Regions from separate parts of the Homo sapiens genome. Here region 2 is linked to region 1. A link means that fine-mapping ties the variant in region 1 to the expression of a gene that starts in the linked region. Tissue or cell type: whole blood. Region 1 holds a variant in brackets; the other region holds the start of a gene. All regions are shown on one strand. Distances are from middle to middle.

Evidence for each region. PIP is the estimated chance that this variant, and not a neighbour inherited with it, causes the effect.
Region 2: RNF130 starts here. The variant in region 1 is fine-mapped to the expression of RNF130 in whole blood (INTERVAL, PIP above 0.99).

What each region holds. Positions count from the first base shown.
Region 1 is chr5:180,002,795-180,010,794 of GRCh38, reverse strand. All of the region lies in intron 3 of RNF130 (ring finger protein 130), which reads left to right. Among named protein-coding and RNA genes, the nearest start is that of MIR340, 8.6 kb to the left of the region's middle. RefSeq lists an enhancer at 2,744-3,245. The variant G/A (reference allele first, on the strand shown) is at 3,563.
Region 2 is chr5:180,067,191-180,075,297 of GRCh38, reverse strand. It overlaps RNF130 (ring finger protein 130), which reads left to right and starts at 3,539. Exons shown (of 9, transcript NM_018434.6): 1 at 3,539-3,842. The coding sequence starts at 3,596. RefSeq lists a silencer at 3,189-3,268 and an enhancer at 3,158-3,865.

The DNA of each region.
Region 1 (8,000 bases):
ATCACAAGGAACCCTTGTGCTACTCTTTTATAACCACAGCCACCTCCCTCCTTCCCCCTTCCCTAATCTACCAGGAATCTGTTTCTCATCTCTATAGTTTTGTCATTTCAAGAATGTTAAATAGGTGGAATCATGGGCCAGGCACGGTGGCTCACACCTGTAATCCCGGCACTTTGGGAAGCCAAGGCAGGTGGATCACTTGAGGTCAGGAGTTCAAGACCAGCCTGGCCAACATGGCAAACCCCATCTCCACTAAAAATACAAAAATGTAGCTGGGCAAGGTGCCATGCGCCTGTAGTCCCATCCATTCAGGAGGCTGAAGCACGAGAATTGCTTGAACTTGGGAGGCAGAGGCTGCAGTGAGCCATGATCGTACCACTGCACTCCAGCCTGGGTGACAGAGTGAGACTCTGTTTCAAAAAAATAAAGAAAAAAATGTTATATAGGTGGAATCATATAGTATGTAACCTCTAGAGTTTGGAATTCTTCACTTCCTCACTCAGCATAATTACCTTGAGATACTTTTTTTTTTTTTTTTTTTTTTTTTTTTGAGATGTAGTCTCACTGTCGCCGAGGCTGGAGTGCAGCGGCTGGATCTCAGCTTACTGCAAGCTCCGCCTCCCAGGTTCACGCCATTCTCCTGCCTCAGCCTCCGGAGTAGCTGGGACTACAGGTGCCTGCCACCGTGCCTGGCTAATTTTTTGTATTTTTAGTAGAGATGGGGTTTCACCGTGTTAGCCAGGATGGTCTCGATCTCCTGACCTTGTGATCCGCCCACCTCAGCCTCCCAAAGTGCTGGGATTACAGGCGTGAGCCACTGCGCCCGGCCAAGATACTTTCAAGTTGTTATGTGTATCAGTCATTTATTCCTTTTTATGGCCGAACTATATCCCATGGTTTGGATGTACCACCGTTTGTTTAATTGCTCGCTCATTGAAGGATATCTGGGATGTTTTCAGATTTTGGCTATTACAAATAAAGCAGCTGTGAACAATCACATACAGGTTTTGGTGTAAACATGAGTTTTCGTTTCCCTGGGATAAATGTGTAATTTCTGAGTTCAGTGTAAATTCCAAGAGTGAAGTTTTTGGGCTGTTAAGATAAGTGCATATTTAGTTCTGTAGGAAACTGTTAGACTCATTTTGCAAAGTGGCCATACCATTTTGCATTCCTGCTAGAAATGTATGACTGATCCAGTTCCTCCACACTCTCGACAGCACTTGGTGTTTTCATCTCTTGTGATTGTTGAGTTGTGTAGTAACATCTCTTGTGGTTTTAGTTTGCATTTCTCTAATTAGACATTTTTTATGTGCTTGTTTGCCATCCGTATATCCTCTTCAGTGAAATATCCATTCATGTCTTTTGCCCATTTTCTACCTAGATTGTTTTTCACTGTTGAATTTTGAGAGCTTTTTATGTATTCCAGATACAAGTCCTTCGTCAAATATGTGGCTTGCAGAGATTATCTCCCAGTCTGTATTTTGTTTTGTTCAACCTCTTAACAAGGTCTTTGAAAAGCAAAAATTTCTAATTTTTATGGTTTATTAATTTTTTCTTTTATGAATTGTGCTTTTGGTGTCAAGTCTAAAAATTCTTTACTTATCCCTAGATATCCCAAAGATTTTCTACTATTTTTCCTGGAAGTTTTATATTATGTTTTACATTTAAGTCTGTGATTAGTTTATTTGAAGGCTTTCCTGTTTTCTAATGTAAGAATTAAGTGCTATAAATTTCTCTCTCAGCACTTCTTTAAGGCTATGCCTCACATATTTTGATATGCTGTATTTTCATTTTCATTCAGTCCTATGTATTTTTTTCTTTTGAGACTTCTTCTTTTACCCATACATTACTGAGAAGTATGTTATTGAATTTCCAGTAGTTTAGATATTTTACTTTTTTTTTTTTCCTTTTGAGAGAGGGTCTTACTCTGTCACCCAGGCTGGAGTGCAGTGATACGATCTCAGCTCACTGCAACCTCCACCTCCCGGGTTCAAGTGATTCTCTGACCTCTGCCTCCCGAGTAGCTGCGATTACAGGCGCATGCCACCGTGTCCGGCTAACTTGTATTTTTTGGTAGAGATGAGGTTTCACTGTGTTGCCCAGGCTGGTCTTGAACTCCTGACCTCAAGCGATCTGTGCACCTCAGCCTCCCAAAGTGCTGGGATTACAGACATGAGCCACTGTGTCCTGCCAAGATTTTACTATTATCTTAGTGTTACTGATTTCTGGTTTGATTCCATTATGCTCAGAGAAATACTCTATGATTTCAGTTCTCTTCTGTTTCTTGAAGTTTGTTTTATGATGTAGGATGTAGTTTGTCTTAGTCAGTGTTTCATTGGTGCTTAGAAAAAATATTCTGCTGTTGGGTGGCATGTTCTCTGGGTGTTAATTAGACCAGTGGGCACAGCTTTTCTTCCTGAGGAGCCGGGCTGGGAGAGCCTATTCCCACTGGGCTCTGTGAGACCAGGGTGGGAGGAGGATTGTGATTTTGCCCTTGGCGCCTGGCTGGAGTAGAATGAATATTACTGCAAGTGTTTTCTGATGTTAGGCCATCCTTCTCTTGGTACTTTGGCTAGCGGAGTTGGGCTTTTCTCGGCTTTTTCTGGGGTCGGGTGGTGGGCTGCTCTGGTCCTGTTGGCTGTTCCAGGTTGGAGGCTTCTGCAGCACATTGTCAGGAATCTATGGGGGAAGTAAGGAAGCTTGGAAGCCACCACCCGTTTCTCATGTCTTGAGGGCCCCAGGCAGCCCACCTCCTTTTCCCTCCTATAACATGTAATATACCTGTTAAAAAAAAAAAAAAAAAAAACTAAAAGATTTGTTTTTAAAATATGTTGACATACGAAACACTGAAAGTAAAATGAGAAGGAGCTGCTCTGGAGTGGTGTTGTTGACAGGCAAGCCTGTGTTAGTGGACTGGGTGTAGCTCACCCTGAGGACGTTGGAACAAAGGCTCACGGTTGTCCCAGGAGCCTGCTATTGGAAGATAGTGCTTTAATTAGCACCCAGTGTGGGGCCGGGGCTGATGAAGGAGGAAACATAATCACCATCTGGTGCAGGCCACAAACTGCGAGCTTGTTTCCTAGCATTTATTTTGCGGCTGACTGCATGCAGGATCCTTCCAAAGCGTCTCTCCAGATGCTACTGTGGTGGAAAGTGATGTTCTGACCTTTTTTCCTCCTTCCGTTTTCCCCAAGGTTGACAAATGCTTGATGAAATTTTTATGTGGCTTAAAAAGCTTAGCTTATTAAAGTTTAATAAGAAGGTGGCAGCAGCTAGACTGGTTGAAACCTTTGGCTATTTTAAAAGAGAAGCCATAATATTAGCAAAGGAAAACCAGTGAGTTTAAGGACAGACTCTGATTTTCTCTCACAAACTGTTTTTGTTTTTGTTTTTTGAGACTGGGTCTCACTCTGTCACCCAGGCTGGAGTGCAGTGGCGCGATCTTGGCTCACTGCAACCTCTGCCTCCTCGGCTTAAGCAATTCTCCTGCCTCAGCCTCACACGTAGCTGGGACTAAAGATGTGTGTCACCATGCCTGGCTAATTTTTGTATTTTTAGTAGA[G/A]ATGGGATTTCACCATGTTGGCCAGGCTGGTCTCAAACTCCTTACCTCATGTGATCCTCCTGCCTCAGCCTCCCAAAGTGCTGGAATGACAGGCATGAACCTCCACACCTGGCCCCCACAAACTGTTATCATGAAGCAGTTCTTCCTGTAGAACATGCTACCAAAGAGATCCATATATTGTAAATAACTTTCTAAGCATAGTAAAATGCTCACAATTGAGAACATTTTGCATGTGATATAAGAATCTAATGCTTTGGCTTTTCAGTTCATGACTAAGTGTCTGTGGTTTGCTCTTCCTGGAAAACTGTCAGAATGTATCTAATTACTATCTATAGGTGTAGATAGTTCAAACTACCACTGATGGTAAACTTAAATGTCGCTGTCAAATTAAGTCACTGATAGTTATTTTACACAAAACGGTAGATGTTTGTTACCTTTATTTTGAATAAATGCTTAAGGATTTTCTGAAAAATGTAAAATGTTTAACAGTTACATGGTTAATATTGCACCTTTAATTTCAAAGTGGTCAAATTTAATTTCTAAAGCAGAACAATGAAATTTTCATTTTACTGTTTAGGAACGGGGCAGATGTAAAATATTCTGCCACTTAATGGACTCCTGAATATTTAGAATGTATTCTTAAAACTTCCCAGTGAAAATGCATGTGCTTTTTAAGGTATTTAAAATTTGTAAAAGCTTCTTGCCATAACATGTGTATATAATATTCTTTGACTTTATAAGTATCTCAGGGTTGCTGAAATGAAATACACTCTTATTGCCCATTTTCATCATGAAAGGTCAGTAGCTAATTGGAGAATGCATTTGCCTGTCAGAATGTGGAAATATATGGAACATTCCTGTGTCAGAGAAAGGTTAAAACTTTGCATGAGTACAGTTAATCTTTGAAAACTGGTGGGTTCAAAAGGTTTTTTTTTTTCTTCCACATTGGAAGAGAGGAAGTATTGTATATACTGCCAAGATTTGTCCTACAGAAAAGGATTATATGGCCCCAAAACAGACTTCTTTTGTCATTTTAGATGGCAGAGTGAATTTTGTTCATTATGTTTCTTAAGGATTAACAATTCCAGAAGAACTGGAAAGGGGAAATAGATGTTTGAGCTGAGAAGTTATTATCTTACCAGTTTTAAAAAAATACTGCAAATACTCTGATACCTTGTTTTTCATGTCCTGCCATTTTGTAAATAAATAACACTTTTCATATACAGAGACTGTATTATATACCTTCTAAATATTACATGTCAGGGGCTTAAGATCTGATTTTTTTAAAGCACAAAATATGCTCTTAAGATCATAGTGTTTGCAAGATAATTCATTTCTATATCCTTGGGGTTTAGCATGGGGCCTGGCACATCACACTGCCTCAGTAAATATTTCAATGAATTCAAGAATGAGCTTACCTTCTGTTGCAATGACAGATGCAGTCAAAATACTGTGTGGTATAGGAGTTATTCTTTGGGGGCAGAGTGATATTACTCTCAGGGAGTCAAGGACACTTCACAGAGAAGGTAGGTTGTGACCTTGGAGCTGAATTTTAAAGGATGAATTAAGACTTCATCAGATGGAGATGAAGGAGAGTCAGGCAAATGGATCATTTTCCACAGAGAGATGAAAGAGTTGAATGACTGAAACATCAGGAATAGTGGGCAGGAGACTTGTGAGTGTTGAGCTGATATTAGATGAATAAATTGTCACTAGACTATGAAGGGCATGAATCACATAAGAAAGTTAGGCTTTATTCTATAATCAATATGGTTTCTGTTGGTGTTGTTGTTGTTGTTTTTCTGAGACAGAGGCTTGTTCTGTCGCCCAGGCTGGAGTACAGTGGCTCGATTAACAGCTCACTGCAAGCTCCGCCTCCCAGGTTCAGACCATTCTCCTGCCTCAGCCTCCTGAGTAGCTGGAATTACAGGTGCCCACCACCAGGCCCGACTAATTTTTGTATTTTTAGTAGAGACGGGGTTTCGCCATGTTGGCCAGGCTGGTTTCAAACTCCTGACCATAGGTGATCCACCCGCCTCGGCCTCCCAAAGTGCTGGGATTACAGGCACGAGCCACCACGCCGGGCCATCAGTACGGTTTTTTAGCAGTGGAGTGATATACAATTCTTTTCTGGTGCGAGAGACTTAGGGAGAAGGAGCTATGAAAAGAGGAAATATTGAAGAGCAAAGGAAGATGATATTAATAAAATAAGGTTATGTAGAGAGGAGAGGAGTGATCTGGGCACAGGCAGATGGTGTCTTGCAAAAGAGTTAACAGAGGCTTCTTTTGAGAAAAAAAAATGGGAAAAAATGGTGGTGAATGAATGAAGGAGGGTGCAGACTACAAGGCACTTTGCATTGGGGAAAGATTTTATACCTAGATTTCACCAGTGTTTACAAAAAGAAAACCCTACTCTGTGCAGATACAGACTTACTCTAATTCTGTGAGAGAGTTCTGATTGCCGAATGGCAAAACCTGAGATGAATTTCATCAAAGTGACCTATCCTCAATATACTCTGAACCATTTGGCTTTGAACCAACTATTCCTATTAGATTAAGCCGTAAGAATTGTTTTAACTTGTTTTCTGCCAATTCAAACATTTTGTCACTTTGCTTTCAAATATAGAATGGTGTTTATTGTTGCAGCTTTGACCAGATGAGATAAGATAATCTGGCCCCTAACAAACCCCTCAAGCTGTATGCTATAGAAAGTCTTTTCAGCATTTTATAGTGGAGGAAGAACTGAAGTGGAAAGGAGATCTATGGTCCTAGTCCGAATACTTTTAGTAACTTCAGACAGATCTCCTCATCTCTTTCTGGGGCTTGGTTTTTCTCCTTTGTAAAATGATGCCTTTCTGTGGTTTTGTCATTTCTAACATTCTGTGTGTGATGAGGTGTAAATTTGAGGAGTTTTATTATTAAAGGAATAGGGCACAGTGTGAAGTACGGAGAATATCAGTGAGTGGGTAGCGTATTACGGGAAAATGCTTTGAAACCAGGGTTTGTACTTCATTTAGTGAGTCTCAAACTTTAGTATACAAAAGAATCATGTGAGAGCTCCTTTTAGGGGCTGGAGCACTTTTTAAAATTGCAAATTTCCAAGATCGTTCCTCCCCTTAATTCAGCAAGTCTGGATAGGGCCTACTTACTAGCCTTTGATGTGGGCAAATTATTTAATCTCTGCCTCAATCTCCTCTTCTGTAAAATGGGATATTATAGTTCTTTTCTCATAAAATGATTGTGACGATAACACGAGTCAGTACTTGTGAAGGGCTTAGAACAGTACCTAGCACATGGTATGTACCGAATAAACCTTAGTTAGTATAGATTTTATTATTATATATTACTAAGCATTCAAGGTAGATTTAATGCATCTGCCCCATGGACCACACCTTGAAAAACAGTGACTTAATGGCATGGTGTTTAGGTGAAGGTAAGAGACTTTAATAAAAAGTGATCTTCATGGAAGAATTTTGTACCTCATCGTAGGTACTTGAGAGTTAGCCGGATGCAAATAGACTTAGAATGAAAAATTTTAAAAAAATAGTGGCTTTTAGACAGATTCCAGGAAGAGATCAAATTGTACACACATACATAGACACTTATACCTGTCACAGGTTTACCTGTCGCAAAGTGATGGGAAATGTTAAAGGACTGATTAAAAACTCAAAGGATAATTCAGAAGAAGGTAGTAATACTGAAGCCAAGTCCAAAGAAAAATTACAGTGAAGGTATTGACATTAATACCTAACACAGAGAAGAGATATTTTGTCCTTGTGCTATAAGAGGTGTTCAAAGTTCAGAGGTGGAAAATATGATCTACCTAAATATTTGTAGGTCTCTGATTAGATAACCTACATGCATTCACGTCAGCTTGCTGAAGACTGGACTGCTTCCACCAGCACCTGCTCTCTGCTTTTGGCTATTCCATAATGCAGTGTGATGGCAGGCGCTCTCACACGGCTCATCACCGAGCCAGAAGTCTGGGGGCACCTCTCCTCAAACCCCCCTCTTCGTGCCTCCATGTCAGTCATGAGGTTCTGTCGGTTTTACCTGCTAAATCTTTCTTGACTTTGCGCTCTTCTTTCTTTACCTACTGCTGCTTGCCTAATTCAGGCCCTTCTTGTCTCTGAAATATTAGAGACCCTACCTGGACATCCTGTGGAGGCAAGATTTTAATTCTCCAAGCCTCAAATAGCATCAGGAACTTTTCTGTTCAGAACTCTTTGGTAGAATTCTGATCTGAACAGAATGGAAGCAATGAGATTCTTGTAAAATCTCCTCAAATTCCTTAATAATAATAATAATAACAACCCAGATCTGAGTTACCTTAGGAAAATGACCCATTAGAAATCCTTAGAACTTGTCCTCCTTGCAAAAAAAGCCTGAACAATAAATAAACAACTTAATGAAAATAACAGAGGGAGAGTACAGGGGT
Region 2 (8,107 bases), 64 kb before region 1:
GACCTGCCATGTCCGATAAAACCACTCGTACTTTTATTTAACCAATACTTTTAATTCACTTTTTTCTTAAATGTTTTAAAAGATAGCATCGTGTAAAGATATACACATGGCCAATAAGCACATGAAAAGATGTTCAGCACCACTAATCATTAGGGAAATGCAAATCAAAACCATAATGAGAGACCACCTAATACCCATTTAGATGGCTACTATTTTGAAAAAGAAGTAGAGAAGTGTTGGCAAGGATGAGAAGAAACTGGAACCCTTGTGCAGTTGGTGGGAATGTAAAATGGGGCAGCTACTATTAAAAAAACAGTAGGGCAGTTCCTGAAAAAAATTAAGCATAGAATTACCATTAGATCTGGTAATTCCACTTCTGAGTATATACACAAAAGAATTGAAAGCAGGAAGGGATATTTATACGCCCAATGTTCATAGCATCATTATTCACAATAGCCAAACAGTAGAGGCAACCAAGTGTCCTATGATGAATGGATAAACAAAGTGTATTATATACATACAGTGGAATGGATGAATGGCTAAAAAAAAACTTGGAATATACATACAATGTGATATGATTCAGCCTTAGCAAAGGAGGAAATCTGATACGTACTTCAACAGAGGTGAACCTCAAGGACATCGTGCAAAGCAAGATAAGCTACTCACAAAAGGACAAATACTATATGATTCCACTTATGCGGGTAAGTAGAATCATCAAAATCATAGAGACAGAAAAGAAGAATGGTAGTTGGGGAAGGGGGAACGTTTAATGGGTGCAGAGTTTCAGTTTTACAAGATGGAAAGAGTTCTGGAGATGGATGGCAAAGGTTACACAACGATGTGAATGTACTTAATGCCACTGATCCATATGCTTAAAAATGGTTAAGATGGACAATTTTATGTTATGTGTATTTTACCATAATATTTTAAAAGGTAGCGTTGTATCACTATTATAAATGAAAAACTTCTTGTCTCCCTAAGGTCTCCTTAAAACCTTGAGGTTTCCTTAAAAGACAATGCCACTCCCAAGTACAGGCTGGTGTGAATGTTGCCGTACATGCTGGTGCGTGATGAGGCTGTGCACCGAGACCTCATCTTGCTTTATTTAAAGGGGAGATCAGCAAGTGCCAGGGAAGTGTTAAAGGTGCTCTGGAACCAATTTTCTCCTTGACAAATTCAGAAGGGTTGAGAAAGCCACTTCCTCCCCACCTGATTAACAAAGTGGTGCTTGTGAGCTTCTATAATTGTTTCTTGTGCCAGGGGTCATGGGCACCTTACAGTTTGAAGACTCCTCCTTTATAAGGACAAAGGAGTAGAGGCCATGAGCCTCTTGGGCAGGGGTAGGCCAGGGCATGCCCAGCAAGAAGAGCAGGAGACCGTCACCGGGAAGAGCCCTACACAGGCCCTAGATGTGGCCCTGGGCTGTGGGGAGAAGGAATTTCTGGGTCTTAGGTGCTAGAGCATGGGTACCTTGGTGCTAAGGACTCCTTGCCCTATGAAGGGTCCAGCTGGAGGGGACCAGATTAGAGCACTCTTTAGGTGCCAGGCCCAGGGCGAGGACCCCGCTGCTTTGGCCTAGGGTCTGTACTTGCCGAGGATAAGTAAATAAGTAAAAGCCGTTCTCCATAGGCCAGGGCACGGTTTATAAGGACTATGGTAGAGGATGGAAGAGAGGGAAATGGAGGGAGAAATTGTAAAGGATGTCTGCCAAGTCATCAATAGTGGACATCTGTTTTCTTTCTTTTTTCTTTTTCTGAGACGGAGTCTTGCTCTGTCGCCCAGGCTGGAGTGCAGTGGCTCGATCTCTGCTCACTGCAACCTCCGCTTCCCGGGTTCCAACGATTCTCCTGCCTCAGCCTCCCGAGTAGCTGGGACTACAGGCACGCATCACCACGACTAATTTTTTTATTTTTAGTAGAGACGGGGTTTCACCATGTTGGCCAAGCTGGTCTCGAACTCCTGACCTCGTGATCCGCCCACCTAGGCCTCCCAAAGTGCTGCGATTACGGGCGTGAGCCACCGCGCCTGGCCAGTGGTGGGCATCTTAAGTTTTAGCCTGCACTGCATCCGTACCCTTTCCTGGAAACAGTGCCTCAAATTTCTTTTTGGGGAGCCACCTCTTTTCCGGATTTTCAGAACATTTGGTTGTGCAAAGCTGACTCCACCCACTTCCCGCAGTAGGAGACAGGAGACTCAACCCTGGCTGGTCAGAAGACGCCAAACTTTCCCCCTCCGCCTCCCCACAAAGATCCTGTAAGTTCCTGAATTCGGCTGCACTGCCCCATTCTTCCTTTTAGCTGATACTTTATAGCGATGTGTATCTTTTAAACGCCATGGAGAGAGAAAATGAGAGTCGTGTGTGTGTGCGCGCGCGCGCGTTTCGGAAGGTGGAGGGGGGGTTCCCACTGCAACCCTCTGGTCCGGGGGCCCCTGGAGTAGTTCACCTAGTCACTAGAGCAGGGGCTCCCCAACCGCCCGGCCGCGGACCTGTACCGGCCCAGGGCCTTCGAGGAACCAGTAAGCGAGCAGGAGGTGAGTGAGCATCACCGCCTGAGCTCCGCCTCCTGTCAGATCAGGGCGGCATTAGACTCTCATAGCAACGTGAACCCGGCTGTGAACTGCGCATGCTTGGGACCTAGGTTGCCCACTTCTTACGAGAATCTAACGCCTGATGATCTGAGGTGGAGCAGCCTCATCCGGAAACCACTTCAACTCCCTCAGTCCCTGGAAAAACTCTCTTCCTGGAAACCCGTCCCCCAGTGCCAAAATGGTTAGGGACGGCTACCCTAGAGGTCTTTCCCAACCACTCGTGTCCCTGCAGGTCCGGGCCAGAGACATCCCCCATCCATGATGTCAACCGCATGACGTGAATGTTAAATCTCATGACATTTAATTTTAAACATTTCTTTTAAAGTTATGGCTTTTTTTCCTTTGTAGTCTGTTCTCACACATTTCCATACGTCCTCGCAAATCTCCCGGGCTCCACGCCCTGCGGCTATCACGCCTGACAGAGAAACAACCAGCACCAGCGGCTGACCCGGCTGCCCGGGCCCTCGTGCAGGCGGGCGGGAGCGGACAGGCCCTGGCACGCATGCGCTCGGGGCGGGACTGCGCCTTAGGCCTGCGCGTTGCCGCTAGACCAGCGGGGGGGCGGGGCGGCGGCGGACACGCGCCTCAGGCGGCAGCCGCGCGAGAGGGACTTTGTGTTCCGCTGACCCTCCTCGGGGCGCTTCCTCCCGTGCCGCCCTTCCCCTCCCCCGCCGCGTCCTTGCGAGGCGCCTCCCATTCGGTGGGACCGACCCGGGGGGATGGAGGGGGCACGCTTCTACAACCCTCCTGGGACCCCGAAGAGACGCCCGCGTGCGACCTGAGACGCCGCCCTCGCCGAGGGCCCATGGGCGCGTCCCCACAGGCGGGCAGTGGACGTGAGGGCGGCGAGCGGCGGGGCCGCGGCGTCCAGGAGGGCCGCGCTCGGGCTCGGCCCCGCGCAGGCCGCGCGCGCGCGCTCCCGCCGCCGCCCGGGCCGCGCCCGCCCCGCCTCTAGGCGCCGGCCCCGGAGCCCGGTCCGCGAGCAGCGGCGGCTGCCGGAGGGACGATGAGCTGCGCGGGGCGGGCGGGCCCTGCCCGGCTCGCCGCGCTCGCCCTGCTGACCTGCAGCCTGTGGCCGGCACGGGCAGACAACGCGAGCCAGGAGTACTACACGGCGCTCATCAACGTGACGGTGCAGGAGCCCGGCCGCGGCGCCCCGCTCACGTTTCGCATCGACCGCGGGCGCTACGGGCTTGACTCCCCCAAGGCCGAGGTCCGCGGCCAGGTGCTGGCGCCGCTGCCCCTCCACGGAGGTGAGTGCCGGCCCGGGGGCGGCGGGCGGTGGTCGCTGCATCCCGCGTAGGCGGCGGGACTAGGGTTCCCGGCCCCGGCTCTGGCCCTGGCTCTCCCGCGCTGCCCGGCCGACAGCCCCAGCCAGGGTCGAGGCTTCCGTCGTGGACAGCCCGGCCTGCTCCCGTGGGAACCAGGCTCCAGGAGCGTGACTGGGTTTTTCCCTTCTTTTAAAAAAGACTTGGAACGGTCATCTTTGCGTTCAGGCAGCTCGTTTGCTGGAGGGCATTGAGCTAGGAGTTTGCAGGGACAGCGTAGACAAAGGAGGTGGTGCAAGAGCGCAAAACTACTTCATGGGGAGGACGTCTCAGCCTGTATTTTGGAAGCGGCAGGTTCCTCAAATCACGGACTTAAGGCTGCGCTAGATCTGGAAGGATGCGGCCCTTTTCTAATATAAAAACGTGCCGTTTTTCTTAAGTGGTAAATTGGGGGGGGGGTGTAAATGGAAAATGGACATCTTCCCTGTTGCTTTTGGCTCTTGTTCTTGCCCTAGTAGTTTTACTGTAATTTGACGCCTGAAAATGTCACATTATGAGGATCTGACACTAATCGGAACTACTAGCCAAGGCTTTTCAGGTCACGGGTGCCGACCAAAAGGGAAATAGGTAAAATTTTCAAGAATTGTCTTTGAAACCATTCGGCTTAATGTCATGTTTTCCTATGAACAAGGACTTTGTTTAGTTGATTATTTGGTGTAAACATGTATTTGTTTAAATTATTAGTCATGGTTTGAAAGAAACCTTTTGCACATCGTGGAATATGATTTTTTGGGTTTTGGCCCACGCTGAACTTTTGGGAGATATCTGCCATTATCCCCACCCTCATTGTCACCCTGAGAATGCTGAGAGGGGATTTTTCTTTTCTAAACTGCTGTTCATGTTAGGATGACCTAAAGTAGGCAACCTAAATAAAGTCATGATTTGCTTGTACACTCTTAAGATACTAACATATTATGCCCCTCTGAGGTCTGTATTTGTATGCCAAAGTGCTAAGCTGTTTTCTTCTTTGAGACAGTCTGGCTGGGGAAAAATAATCACATAAGGCTTTTACTGTAGCCTGTCCGCAACTCAGACTAGGCTTTGAAAAGTCCGTTTTACACCAGTAATCAGGTGCTTAAGGTGCATATCTCATCTCTACTGTGTTAAAAATGGCAGTTAGGGTCCCAGCTTGGCCGTAGAAACAACTTTTGTCTTGGGTTCATTCAGTAAATATTTGCGTTCCTGCTCTGTGCCAGTCACTGTGGTTGAGATGCACAGTGTTGCCAGACTGGCAACTAACAATGGTAGCCTCTTTTCTGGTGGAGAGAACCGTGAGGGTCACGTGGAAGGGTAGAAAGAGGAAGGGGAGGCAAGCTGTTGTGGAGCAAGAGCTGGTCCTCTGCAGTGTTGTGAAATCTGTGGTTTGTCTTTGAGGCTTGGTTCCATCAGGCACCCCAAATCCATGGTCTGAACTTCAGATCCTTCCTCCACGGTGTTCGTGTGCTTCAGCTACTTGTTGCTTGCCTGTCACCCCAAACAAAAGCCCCGTCTTTGAGAAAGCTTGTTTTAGGTGTTTCTGTAGAAGGGTATTGGAAACTAACTCATGTGTATTGAGGTATGGATGAAGATTAGTCCTGTTCCCCTCTCAGTGGGGAGGCAGCATTGTAGGATTAAAGGTTCTGAGTCAGGCCTGTGCTTTACGTCCATTGTGTGACACTGTAAAAGTAACTCTGCCATTTAGCCTGTTTGCTCATCTGTAAAATGGAATGATGAAATGTACATCTCTTAAGGTTGTTGACAGGTTTAAACGGTTCCTTAATTCTGAAAAGAGGAGATTTGTTAACCTAGAGGAATCTCTCAGTTGGTGAGATTTCAGACACTGCAACAAAATGAACACATTTGGGCAGTGTGTGAAGACTGGGTGTGAAGTCAGTCCCCTTGAGTTTTAGCCTCCCTTTCCTTGATTCCCTAGGGGTCATTCTGTGTCCGTCCCACAGGGGCTTGCTCCAGGTTTTCTCGGGGTGGGGGTGAGGGTGGGGGATCCTACAGGTGGTTTAAGTCTGGCTTTGTACCAAGGGTCTTCACACATACGCAGTTTTTCAGTCCAGCAAATATTAATTGAAATCCTGTGTGCCCAGTCTCAGTCAAGGCATTGGTGAAGGAGAGGCAACAGCAGTGAACAAAACAGATTTAAAAAAATCCGTCTCTATGAAGCATAGCTTCTGCTGGGATCTTTGTAAGTTAGCCTACCTGTCAGTAGTTTCTAAACCTATGGGTTTATATGAAATCTAAATCTTCTGCTGTTGCAGTAGGAACTTAGGAATTTATTTTAGAAACAGAAATGGTGATATAAATCTGTTAAAATTATTCGTGTTAAGAAAATGATTTAAAATTGGAATACTTGGGTATTTTACATTATAATCTTGATTTAATGAGTTTAACAATTTTTTAGTTTTAGAAAAAATAGTGCATCTTTATGACCTTGATGCTCTTATAATTTTGAATTGAGGAGAATTCTTGACATGTTTATTGAGGACTTACTGCACGTTGACACTAAGCAAAGTAATGCTCAGATTACACACAAAGTTATCAGACAGGTCCTGGTGGAAAAACAGCTGTGGCCAATACGTGAAATTCATGAAAATTTGTTTTGAGGGTGTTTGATAGAAATGAACATAAAGACAAAAGAACTTTATAGTTTTCCTAGAGTTGAACCTGATGGCTCATTTTGAAGCTGTGGATTGATTTATGAAACTAGAAACCTTCCTGTTCGCTTTGCAGTGCTACTATCAGTTTGGCACGTGTGAATTTCTGAATAACATTTATTTGTCCTATCCCTTTAAAGAGCAAATAGTCAATTTTTTTCTTAGGCACTTTGGTATTTTAAAAGTATATTTTGGCAAGTGCTATACTTTACGTAGTATACTTTATGAGATATCTTATAAACAAGTGTACTTTAAAAATATGTCTTTGTCATTAAGTCGAATGCATTGGTGGGTGTAGAATCATTTGCCTGGGGCTAACACATTTTATATTTTAACTGGTAAAGAATTCGTGTTTAGAAACGGAGTTTTGAAGGAACATGTCTTGTATTTATGCACAGATCACGGTTGCTTTCTTATTACTTACTCAAATGGTGAGCTTAGAACTAGGAGCAAAATATTTAGTACCTTTGCGGAGCAGCCTAGCTAGGGTCTGCTGTGGAGCAGACATTGTAAATGTGCTTTATGTGTGTGCACACTAACTTTTTGTTTGGCCCCAGAGTGGGGGTTGGGAGAGGAGAAAGCCCTGTGTTGATGATGTGATTATGTATGCAGATGTGCTGGTGGGGAAGAGTTTAGTATCGGCCACTTCTTGCTTTGCATAGAAATTTTCAGGATTGGATGTTACAGCCTTAGAGAATAATTTTACCAAATAATAAATCTTGTTTTGCTAACTTGCTTAGGGATACAATAAAACTCAAAAAAGTGAATCTTAGGTTTTCATGTTTAAAAATGTAATCCTATTAGACGAAGCCTTTAATGGTTCCTTTAATGAATCTGAAATCGGTTTTTAGAAATTCTCATGAACAGTGGAGGAGATTGATGCGAAAACAGGATTTGGGTGAAAGGGGTCATGTAATGTTTGAATTCATAACAGCAAAGGCAGGGGCTATTGGACACAGATTTCAAAATATTCAGAGAAAAAGGATATATGATCATGGGAGCAGGGTCTCTGAACATTCAGAAAGAGCTGGAGGCTCTAAAAATCAAATTTTAACATAAATAGGCTGGCAAGAGAAAAGGGGATGTATATAATAAATTATATTTATGTTGAACTTTACAGCTTATGACATGTTTTTACATACCGTGTTTTTCCTTCACATTTGAATGATGATTTCCATTAGCCTATAAATATTTGAATTTTTTTAAAAACCACTTGATCTCTCCACCAAATCCCTGTCCTGCTACCACCCCATTTCTCTCTTACAGCGAACCTCTAAACGTTATCTACATTTACTGCCTCTGATTTTTCCTCCTGCTGCTCTTCTCTTTGTGAAGGTCTTCTATTGCCGTGCCAGTGATTTTGATGAAGACGTGGCATATGTAACATATATTTGATAGCAGGGTCAGAATTGCAAAGATCTTAATGTGTACAATGATGGGCTATATAGCTTTAAAAAAATTAATAGGAATGAAGACATAGATTTGGGTTAAAAAAAAATCACCTTCATGGAGGGGAGCAGAAGGGAGCTAAGGCTTAGCTACCTG